2 separate regions of the Homo sapiens genome follow, and region 1 is reported to be linked to region 2. The links are microRNA targets in miRTarBase. Many come from high-throughput screens and were not tested one by one. Region 2 holds a microRNA gene; the other region holds the end of a gene's coding sequence.

Evidence for each region. Region 2 holds the annotated microRNA hsa-miR-6075 (ACGGCCCAGGCGGCAUUGGUG, at 2,175-2,195, shown strand). A microRNA usually pairs through its seed, bases 2 to 8, with sites in the 3' UTR of a target mRNA and lowers its output. Matches are read on the target gene's strand: a 7mer-m8 pairs with bases 2 to 8, a 7mer-A1 pairs with bases 2 to 7 and ends in A, and an 8mer does both.
Region 1: the mRNA of CANT1 is a reported target of hsa-miR-6075. Seed matches in the 3' UTR shown: 7mer-m8 at 2,313-2,319.

Annotation. Positions count from the first base shown.
Region 1 is chr17:78,990,086-78,994,596 of GRCh38, reverse strand. It overlaps CANT1 (calcium activated nucleotidase 1), which reads left to right. Exons shown (of 5, transcript NM_001159773.2): 5 at 677-2,881. The coding sequence ends at 1,047. Among named protein-coding and RNA genes, the nearest start is that of LGALS3BP, 12 kb to the right of the region's middle.
Region 2 is chr5:1,508,962-1,512,961 of GRCh38, reverse strand. MIR6075 (microRNA 6075) reads left to right here and starts at 2,106; the gene lies at 2,106-2,200. The region is part of intron 1 of LPCAT1 (lysophosphatidylcholine acyltransferase 1); the gene reads left to right. RefSeq lists enhancers at 417-976, 3,293-3,810, 3,811-4,000 and a silencer at 894-1,188.

The sequences.
Region 1 (4,511 bases), not on the chromosome of region 2:
GTTGCCTCTGATGGTGGCTTCCCTCAGGCCAGTGGATTCTGGCGGCAAATGAGCTGTTTTCTCTTTCCTGCCCCACTCGCCCTGGCAGCTGGCCTCCTAGCATCCCAGCCTGTGGCCCGGTTGTCTGCACTGGTGGGTCAGGCCCTGTCCCTACCCCTGGCGCTGGGCCGTGGTGTTCCACACCAACATAGGGCCAGCAGCACTTTGGCCTCCCCCTAGTCAGGATGGAGTAGGCCTTAGGTGCCTGAGGTTCAGGAGGAAGTGACTGAGTCTGTGCCTGGGGCCCCAGACGCTGTCTCCTCTTCCTTGCAGCCTCAAGGCAGCCTCCCCGCCGATGCCTCCCCACATCCAATGGGGGTTTGTTCCCTTTCCTTGGGTTCCTCTGGATCAGCCCCGAGGAGGCTCCGATGAGCCCAAATCCCTGATGCAGCTCACAGGCAGCTCTCGGTGGAACGGGAGGAGGCTTCAAGGGAGCGGGTGCTGCAGGTTCCCTGCATGGGATAACCGAGAACACAGAACCTTCCAGAATCCTGGAGAGCAGGGAGGGGCGGGTTGCTGTGAGCTGGTGGGCCCTGGTGGTCGCAGCCCCTTGCCTGCTACTGCGCACGGCCTGATGGTGTGGGGCTGGGCACACCAGGCCGCATGCGTGTCTGACCCGCGGTCACCCGGTTCCCAGGCTACCTCATCCATGAGTCTGCCTGCTGGAGTGACACGCTGCAGCGCTGGTTCTTCCTGCCGCGCCGCGCCAGCCAGGAGCGCTACAGCGAGAAGGACGACGAGCGCAAGGGCGCCAACCTGCTGCTGAGCGCCTCCCCTGACTTCGGCGACATCGCTGTGAGCCACGTCGGGGCGGTGGTCCCCACTCACGGCTTCTCGTCCTTCAAGTTCATCCCCAACACCGACGACCAGATCATTGTGGCCCTCAAATCCGAGGAGGACAGCGGCAGAGTCGCCTCCTACATCATGGCCTTCACGCTGGACGGGCGCTTCCTGTTGCCGGAGACCAAGATCGGAAGCGTGAAATACGAAGGCATCGAGTTCATTTAACTCAAAACGGAAACACTGAGCAAGGCCATCAGGACTCAGCTTTTATAAAAACAAGAGGAGTGCACTTTTGTTTTGTTTTGTTCTTTTTGGAACTGTGCCTGGGTTGGAGGTCTGGACAGGGAGCCCAGTCCCGGGCCCCATAGTGGTGCGGGCACTGGACCCCCGGGCCCCACGGAGGCCGCGGTCTGAACTGCTTTCCATGCTGCCATCTGGTGGTGATTTCGGTCACTTCAGGCATTGACTCAAGGCCTGCCTAACTGGCTGGGTCGTTTCTTCCATCCGACCTCGTTTCTTTTCTTTCCTATGTTCTTTTGTTCAGTGAATATCCCTAGAGCTCCTACCATATGTCAGGCCCTATGCCTCACCCTGAGAACGCAGTGAGCATGAGGTGGACCTGTTTGCTGGGAACCCCAGGTCACCCCCTTTTCTTCCTACTCTGTGCCTGGAGCATCATGTCCACCCCTGCAGATCCTTGGAAAAGAAAATGTTTATGTTGCAGGGTATTGCATGGTCACGAGTGAGGGCAGGCCCCTGGGGACACATCTGCCCACAGCTGCACAGGCCAGGGCGCAGGCACATCTGTTGGTTCTCAGGCCTCAGATAAAACCATCTCCGCATCATATGGCCAGTGACCGCTTTCTCCCTTCAAGAAAATTCTGTGGCTGTGCAGTACTTTGAAGTTTTAATTATTAACCTGCTTTAATTAAAGCAGTTTCCTTTCTTATAAAGTGGAATCACCAAATCTTATCACACAGAGCACAGTCCTGTAGTTACCCAGCCCGCTCCAGCAGTGCGGGAGATTGTAAGGAAGCGGTGGCGGCTGGTGAAGCAAGTCTCACATGTCGGCGTTCTTGGCCAATGGATACAAAGATAAAGAAAATGTTGCCTTTTTCTAGGAACTGTCAGAAATCCTCATGCCTTTCAAGACTTCTGTGAATGACTTGAATTTTTTATTCCCTGCCTAGGGTCTGTGAACGAGGCCTGTCTCTTCCCTGGGGTTTCTTTCCATGGCCTTTATTTCTCCTCTTCCAGTGGGAGTTTTGCAGGCTCTTCTCTGTGGAAACTTCACGAGCGTTGGCTGGGCCTCGGCTTCGCTGGAGTGTACTCCAGGGTGAAGGCAGAGTGGGATTTGAGACCCAGGTTAGGCACGACCCAGGCTGAGAAGGGACGTTTCCATCATTCACAGTGCCCTCCCCACAGCACTACCTCACCCCGACCCCCACCCTCACTCCTACCCCACCCCGCGATCGTCAGGGGTGCCACGGTGGGCCGGAGGGTGCCGGCTCTGGCTGTCCCTGTGCCGGTCCCTCACAAACCTCTCCCCCTTTGAAACTCAAGCACAGCTGCGAGGAGGGCAGCGAGGAGGGACCCCTCTCTCATGGTTGTCTCTTTCCCCCGCTATGTCATAGGTAGTGGAGGAAGCGAAGGAAGTGAACGCTGAATGTGACGCATTTCTGAAGAGCTCAGCTGTCACCGGGCATAGCCTGGAAGCCCCAAGTCTGTTCTGACTTTGCCTGGCTGTCTCCTTGACCCGCCTCCTAGATCATTGTCCTTGATGTCCAGGCTGGGTCATTTAAAATAGAGATGCAATCAGGAAGGTTGGGGGACTTGGGACTGTGGCTGAATTGAGACCTTGCTGATGTATTCATGTCAGCACCTGAGTCACAGCCCAGGTGCCCGGAAGCAGCCTCTTCGCATAGGCAGTGATTTGCGATTACTTTAAAGCTCACCTTTTTTCTTCCCCTCTCTGTTCGCTGCTGTCAGCATAATGATTGTGTTCCTTCCCTATGGGATCCATCTGTTTTGTAAACAATAAAGCGTCTGAGGGAGTGTAGTTTTCTGTCTCCCGGTCTGTGCTGACTGTTTGCAGAGGCCTGGCCACGAGAGCGCCTGCGCAGGATGCTGGGCATGCGCACGGGAGTCGCCCGCCAGGGCATCCCATCTGGAAACTGCGTCCTCCAGTCCGCCTTGTCCCACTATCTCAAGGCGCTCCAAGAGCACGAGCGCTGTGGTCAGAAAGGTGGGGTCTGAAGCCACTGCAAGCCCGATCCTGGCTCTGTCCCCATCCAGCTGCATGTCCTTAGGCAAATGACCTAACTTTCCTGTGCTTCAGTGTCCTCGTCTGCAAAAGGATGCTCATCGCAGAGCTCATCCCGGGGCTGCAGTGAACGGTAAGTGACTGGGTACGCGCAAGGGGCTTAGAACATCACCTGACGTGTGCTGGGCACCCACGTGCCCGTTTTGTTGCTGCTCATCCCTGGGGAGCCATCTGGATGACTTGGTAAGGAGGCGCTCAGGTGAGAGGTCAGGGCTGAGCTGGTGTCTTTAGTGTGTCAGTGAGTCCACAGGAACAGACGAGGTCGCTCCAAGTGACGCATGGAAGAATCCCCATCACTGAAACCACAGGCGCCAGGGAGGCAGGCACTGGCCAAGAAAGACCTCAACTAGAGACAGGACAGGGGCGGCCAGAGAGGGACAGAAAACCGGGAGAGCGGAATCAGAAAGGGCAATTGCACCCACATCGACCCCTTACCCTTCAGACCCACTCTCCTTCCCCGCCTCCTCCGGGTCCCAGACCCAGTGAACCTCCTCAGTGCCCTCTGGGATGGCCCCTGGGGAGTCCCTGACTCTCTCTGGCACTCGCCTCTCAAGGCAGCCCCCTGGTGCCACTCCCAGTGTCTGGGCTGAGTCCCCTCCCCTGGTCTCTTCTGGCCTGGGAGTGTGACATGGGAGTGACAGCTCCACTGTTAGCAGCTCCAGATGCTACAGCGGCCCCTCGTGCCGCCCGCACGCCCTGCTGTCTCATCCGTGGTAAATGGTCCCTTCACTGAAGCCTCCTTAGATGATCTTCATTCGGGTGTCGTCTTTTCCTGCTGGGAGCCTGACCAAGACAGCGCTGCAGGGAGGCGGCCTCTGCAGAAGGACCAGCGCGGCAGCGGGGTCCCCAGAGAGACTCCATGACTGAGCAGCAAGGAGAACTGGGCGTTCTCGGCGAGGATCCACAGAACAACAGTTCCAGAAAAAGCCAGGGCGCATCGGGCCGCGGCGGGTTGGGATAAGGAACCGCATGTAAGCTCTTGACCATCTGTTTAAGAAGCTGTGACATGCGGGACTCGTGGGGCAGTGACTGCCGGCTCCACACTCATGGGTCCGGCACACAGCTCATCTGCAAATGGAAGACTCTCCAGTCACCTCAACTGGACAAAAAAACGAGATTCAGTTTCTTTCATTCCACGTGTTAATCCTGTATTCCAGTATACTTTTTTTCTTTTCTTTTTTTTATTTTGGGGGGATGGAGTCTTGCTCTGTCTCCCAGGCTGAAGTGCAGGGACACGATCTTGGCTCACTGTAACCTCCATCTCCCAGGTTCAAGCAATTCTTCTGCCTCAGCCTCCCAAGTAGCTGGGATTACAGGCGTGCGCCACCACGCCCGGCTAATTTTTGTGTTTTTAGTAGAGATGGGG
Region 2 (4,000 bases):
CGTGCCATCTTTACACGGGCTGCACCTGTGCCGTCTGAGCCAGGTGGTGCTGCGGTTTCCGTCGGTCTCGTTCTGCCTGCACCTGGACACCATTTGTCCAGAGTGCACATTGCAGGTGCTCAGGAATTGTCTGCAGAATGAGTAAGCGTGTTTTCTTTCACACACCTTTTTACTGGTTACTTTCCAACAGCACCAATGTGTGAGCACCATGCCCTGTGCTGGCATCACGGGTGTGAGCCAGGGTGTCAGGGAACGCTTAGTCCAGACAGCAGAGCCCCCCGATGGGAGGAAGACTCCAGGTGAAGGCGTGGGCCATACATAGCTCAGGGGGCCCGAGGGAGTCAGCCCACAGGGCACAGCCTCATTCCAAAGGTCACAAGGTGTCCAGGAATCTGCATTTGTAGTACACAAGGTTGAAAGTCTGAGATGTGGCCCCCCGTGGGCACTTCAGCAAGCTGTGTCTTCTCCAGTGACTGCAGGGTGCTTGCCCCAGATGTTGGGGGTCTATGGCCCTTGATTCTACGGGAAGCATGGACACTGGGTGCTTCAGGGATAGTGAGAGGGAGGCTCTAGTGTGGGACTGCTCTTGGGCCGGGGCCTTGTGACCCTGTGAGCCTCCGTGGGATGATGATGCAGAGCTGACAGTGACTCCGAAGGCGGGTGTGGCCGGCCCAGCGGCTCCATATCTTCCTGATTGGACATGGGGCATGGAGGGCCTGCCTGTGTGGCACCACCCAGCACATAGCCCCACTGCGACTCACGGGGCCGCACGCCACACAGGAGCTCAGACTACTGTGCCTGCCAAGCCCTGTCCGGGTGGCCGTGGGGCTCACTTTACTGGCGAATGAGCAGGGCTCTAAGTGTGGTACGCCCTCTGCCACCTGCTGTGTCCTGGTGGTGATGTGGGGCTGCCCAGGTGGAGCCTCCTTGCCTGGCCTCAGCAGGACCCAGCCCACCCTCCAGACACCCGCTGAGACCGGGAAGTGATGCTCCTCCCAAGCCACAGAGCTTAGGGACAGCTGGGGCTGCAGCTCAACACAGCCATCCCCAGCCATGAGGCTGCCTCCTTGGGGTTGTTGGCTGAGTGGCAAGCAGGAGGGTGCCACCATCTGGGAGCAGAGGACGATGCACAGCTTTGCTGTGCAGATGCATGAGGCTGCTCGATGGACCTCCCTCCTGGAGGGGCTCGGTTCCTGGCCAACCAAGACTGGAGTGGCCTGATCCCACTCAGGGATTCCCTGGCTGTTCTCTGACCCTGTCTGCAGGAAGCAGCTCTGTGTTCAAGAGAGGAATTCAAGCAGTGTCCTGATGGCAGAGTGAGTGAGGCGTACAGGTGCATCCCCACGTAAGGTGAGCAAGGTGAGCAGATGACATCCCCACGTAGGGTGAGCGAGGTGAGCAGGTGCATCCCCAAGTAGGGTGAGCGAGGTGAGCAGGTGACGTCCCCACGTAGGGTGAGCGAGGTGAGCAGGTGCATCCCCAAGTAGGGTGAGCGAGGTGAGCAGGTGACGTCCCCACGTAGGGTGAGCGAGGTGAGCAGGTGCATCCCCATGTAGGGTGAGCGAGGTGAGCAGGTGATGTCCCCACGTAGGGTGAGCGAGGCGTGCAGGTGGTGTCCCCTGAGGGGTTGGGGCCACGTGGTCTCTGATGCCACGTCTGCTACAGAACCTAGGTAACTGGGACACACAAACAGCGCGCGCCGGGGAGGTCAACCCCGCAGAGCCAACCGTGAGCCCAGGTGCAAGAGAGGAGCTGTGCGGTCGCAGTCGGAGGTGCTGTGTGTGGAGATCCACAGAAAGGCCTGCGTGGGCATGAGCAAGTAACCGCAGTGACTCCCTGGTCTCTTCTTGCTGGGATATGGGGCTTCAGTGCCGTCTTAGGGGCCCAGGGTTTTCTCAGAGCCAGTGCCCCTCAGACGCTGGTGGGGACGCCCCGCAGGAGGAAGGTGTGCTCCCCCATGGCTGTTTCCAGAAAGCAGGACTAACCAGGGCCTGCAGAAGCCATGGGAGACAGCCTCCACCCACGCTGCGGAGAGCGGCCCCTGCTCCAGAGACACTGCACTCCTCCAGGCCCGCCTGCCCTCCAGCAGCGGCCCTTGCTCCAGAGACACCACATGCTCCTCCAGGCCTGCCTGCCCTCCAGGTCATGTTCCAGTGTCCCACAGATGCAGCACCACGGCCCAGGCGGCATTGGTGTCACCCCAGGGTGCTACCTGCATGCTACCATCCAGTCCCAGTGACGACACTGGTGCCAACGGTCCCAGGGCCGTCCCTGTATCCTGGAAGCTGGCTCACAGGGGAGCTGGTTGGGTGTTGATGGGGGTTCCCCAGTCACAGGGTGTCGTGGTTTAGACATGGCCAAGACCAGACTGGCTTTGATCCCATTCAACACCGTGCAGCATCCTCGTAAGACGCCCGTGGACTGGAGTGGGTTGAAAATGGTAAATGGAGTGGTCTAGGAGAATCACTGTGCTGTGGGACTGCGGGGCCGATTTGCAAATCCAAAGGGAATTACTGAACACACTGTCATCTCGCAGGCAAGAGCCTCGGGTAGGTGATGGTGCCGAGGGTTCTGGTGAGGACGGTGGAGTAGAGATGACAGCGGCGGGAGGCGGTACGGCTGGTTGAGGGTTTGCAAAGAAATAGTTCAGTTTTAGAAAAGCTATATTTAATTTTAGATTTGAGTGGGAGAGCGAAGAAGAAACAGCTTTATAGATAGCAGTAAGCACGGGCTGTGGGGGAGAGGGGTTCCTGCGGGGAGGCGCAGATCCTCCTGCAGTCACACGGGGTGGGGGTGAAAAGCTCCAGAGTGTGACCTCACTGAAATCTAAGGTCAGGGAGACAATGGATGTTCACAGGGGTGAGAAAAAGACAAAGAAACCCACCATAAATTTGGCACAAGATGTATATACATTTATATAAATGAGAAAATTACACAAACAGAAATGGGAATACCCAGTAAACATAAAATGTTCCTCCCAATGAAACCGTCCCCGTGATGTGGCCTGCGCTCCTGGCAGCCCATCCCTCCTCCTGCAGGCCTCACCTGGGATCTGTAGCGCCTGGGGTGCGGGCCGTGCCTCGGGCTCCAAAGGTAAGAGTGGTTGTGTGTGCAGAGAGAGCCCACGGCAATGGTTCACGGTGCCACTTTTTCACATTTCCTGTCTGCTTTTAGTATCGTTAACTATGAGAATTCATTGTGGGCGTGATCGCTGATTCCATATTTGAAGGCAGCGTTTGGTTTGGACCAGAAGTCATGTTATATGAATAAAGGTGTTTTGGTGATTGGGGAGACAGAAAAGGAGGGCGTTTCCTGCTGCTGCCTTGCTCGGTTTGTGTCTGTGGGTGCTGGACGGGAGTGGGTGATTCCCGAAGCTCCCTCCAGCTCTCAGATGCCGAGGGCGGGCTGGTGGTGTTTGCTGATGGAAGTGCCGGCTCCGTCCGATGGGATGCCTGAGAGAACTGCTGTGCTTTCAAAAGTTGTTCTTTCTCTAAAAGGAAAAAGCAAAAGAAAATTAGACCTTGGACAGCAGGCGCCTGTGTGTGCTGCCGCTCGCCCTCTCACCGTGGGAGGAGTGCACGTTCTCTCGTGGATTTGCAAGCGCACTGTCGCATATCCTGTGGAGTTGGGATAATTTTTTCCACATAATTAAAGCAGCAATGTTGGGATGCACCTTCAGGAGGGAGCATTCCTGTGAGCTGCCTCCACCGCGCTAACCGTAGAGCTTGGGGTGGCTGGCACTGAGCATCTGCCCCGGCCGCCTGTGCGGGATGACGCGGCCTCGCGGCCTTCGAGTCTCCGGGCGCCATCCTTTGGGCAGCCTCCCCTCCACCCCTGCCTCGTTGCAGGTGCATTGGAGCCCCTTCACTGGCTGGGGCACTGCAGTGTGACATCTCCAACAAGTGGGCTCGGAGGGGCCGCAGCATCCCTGCGCCTGGTGGGCCTCACCGCAGCACCCCTGTCGGGCACCGCGATGGCGTGAGTGCACACGAGAGGGACC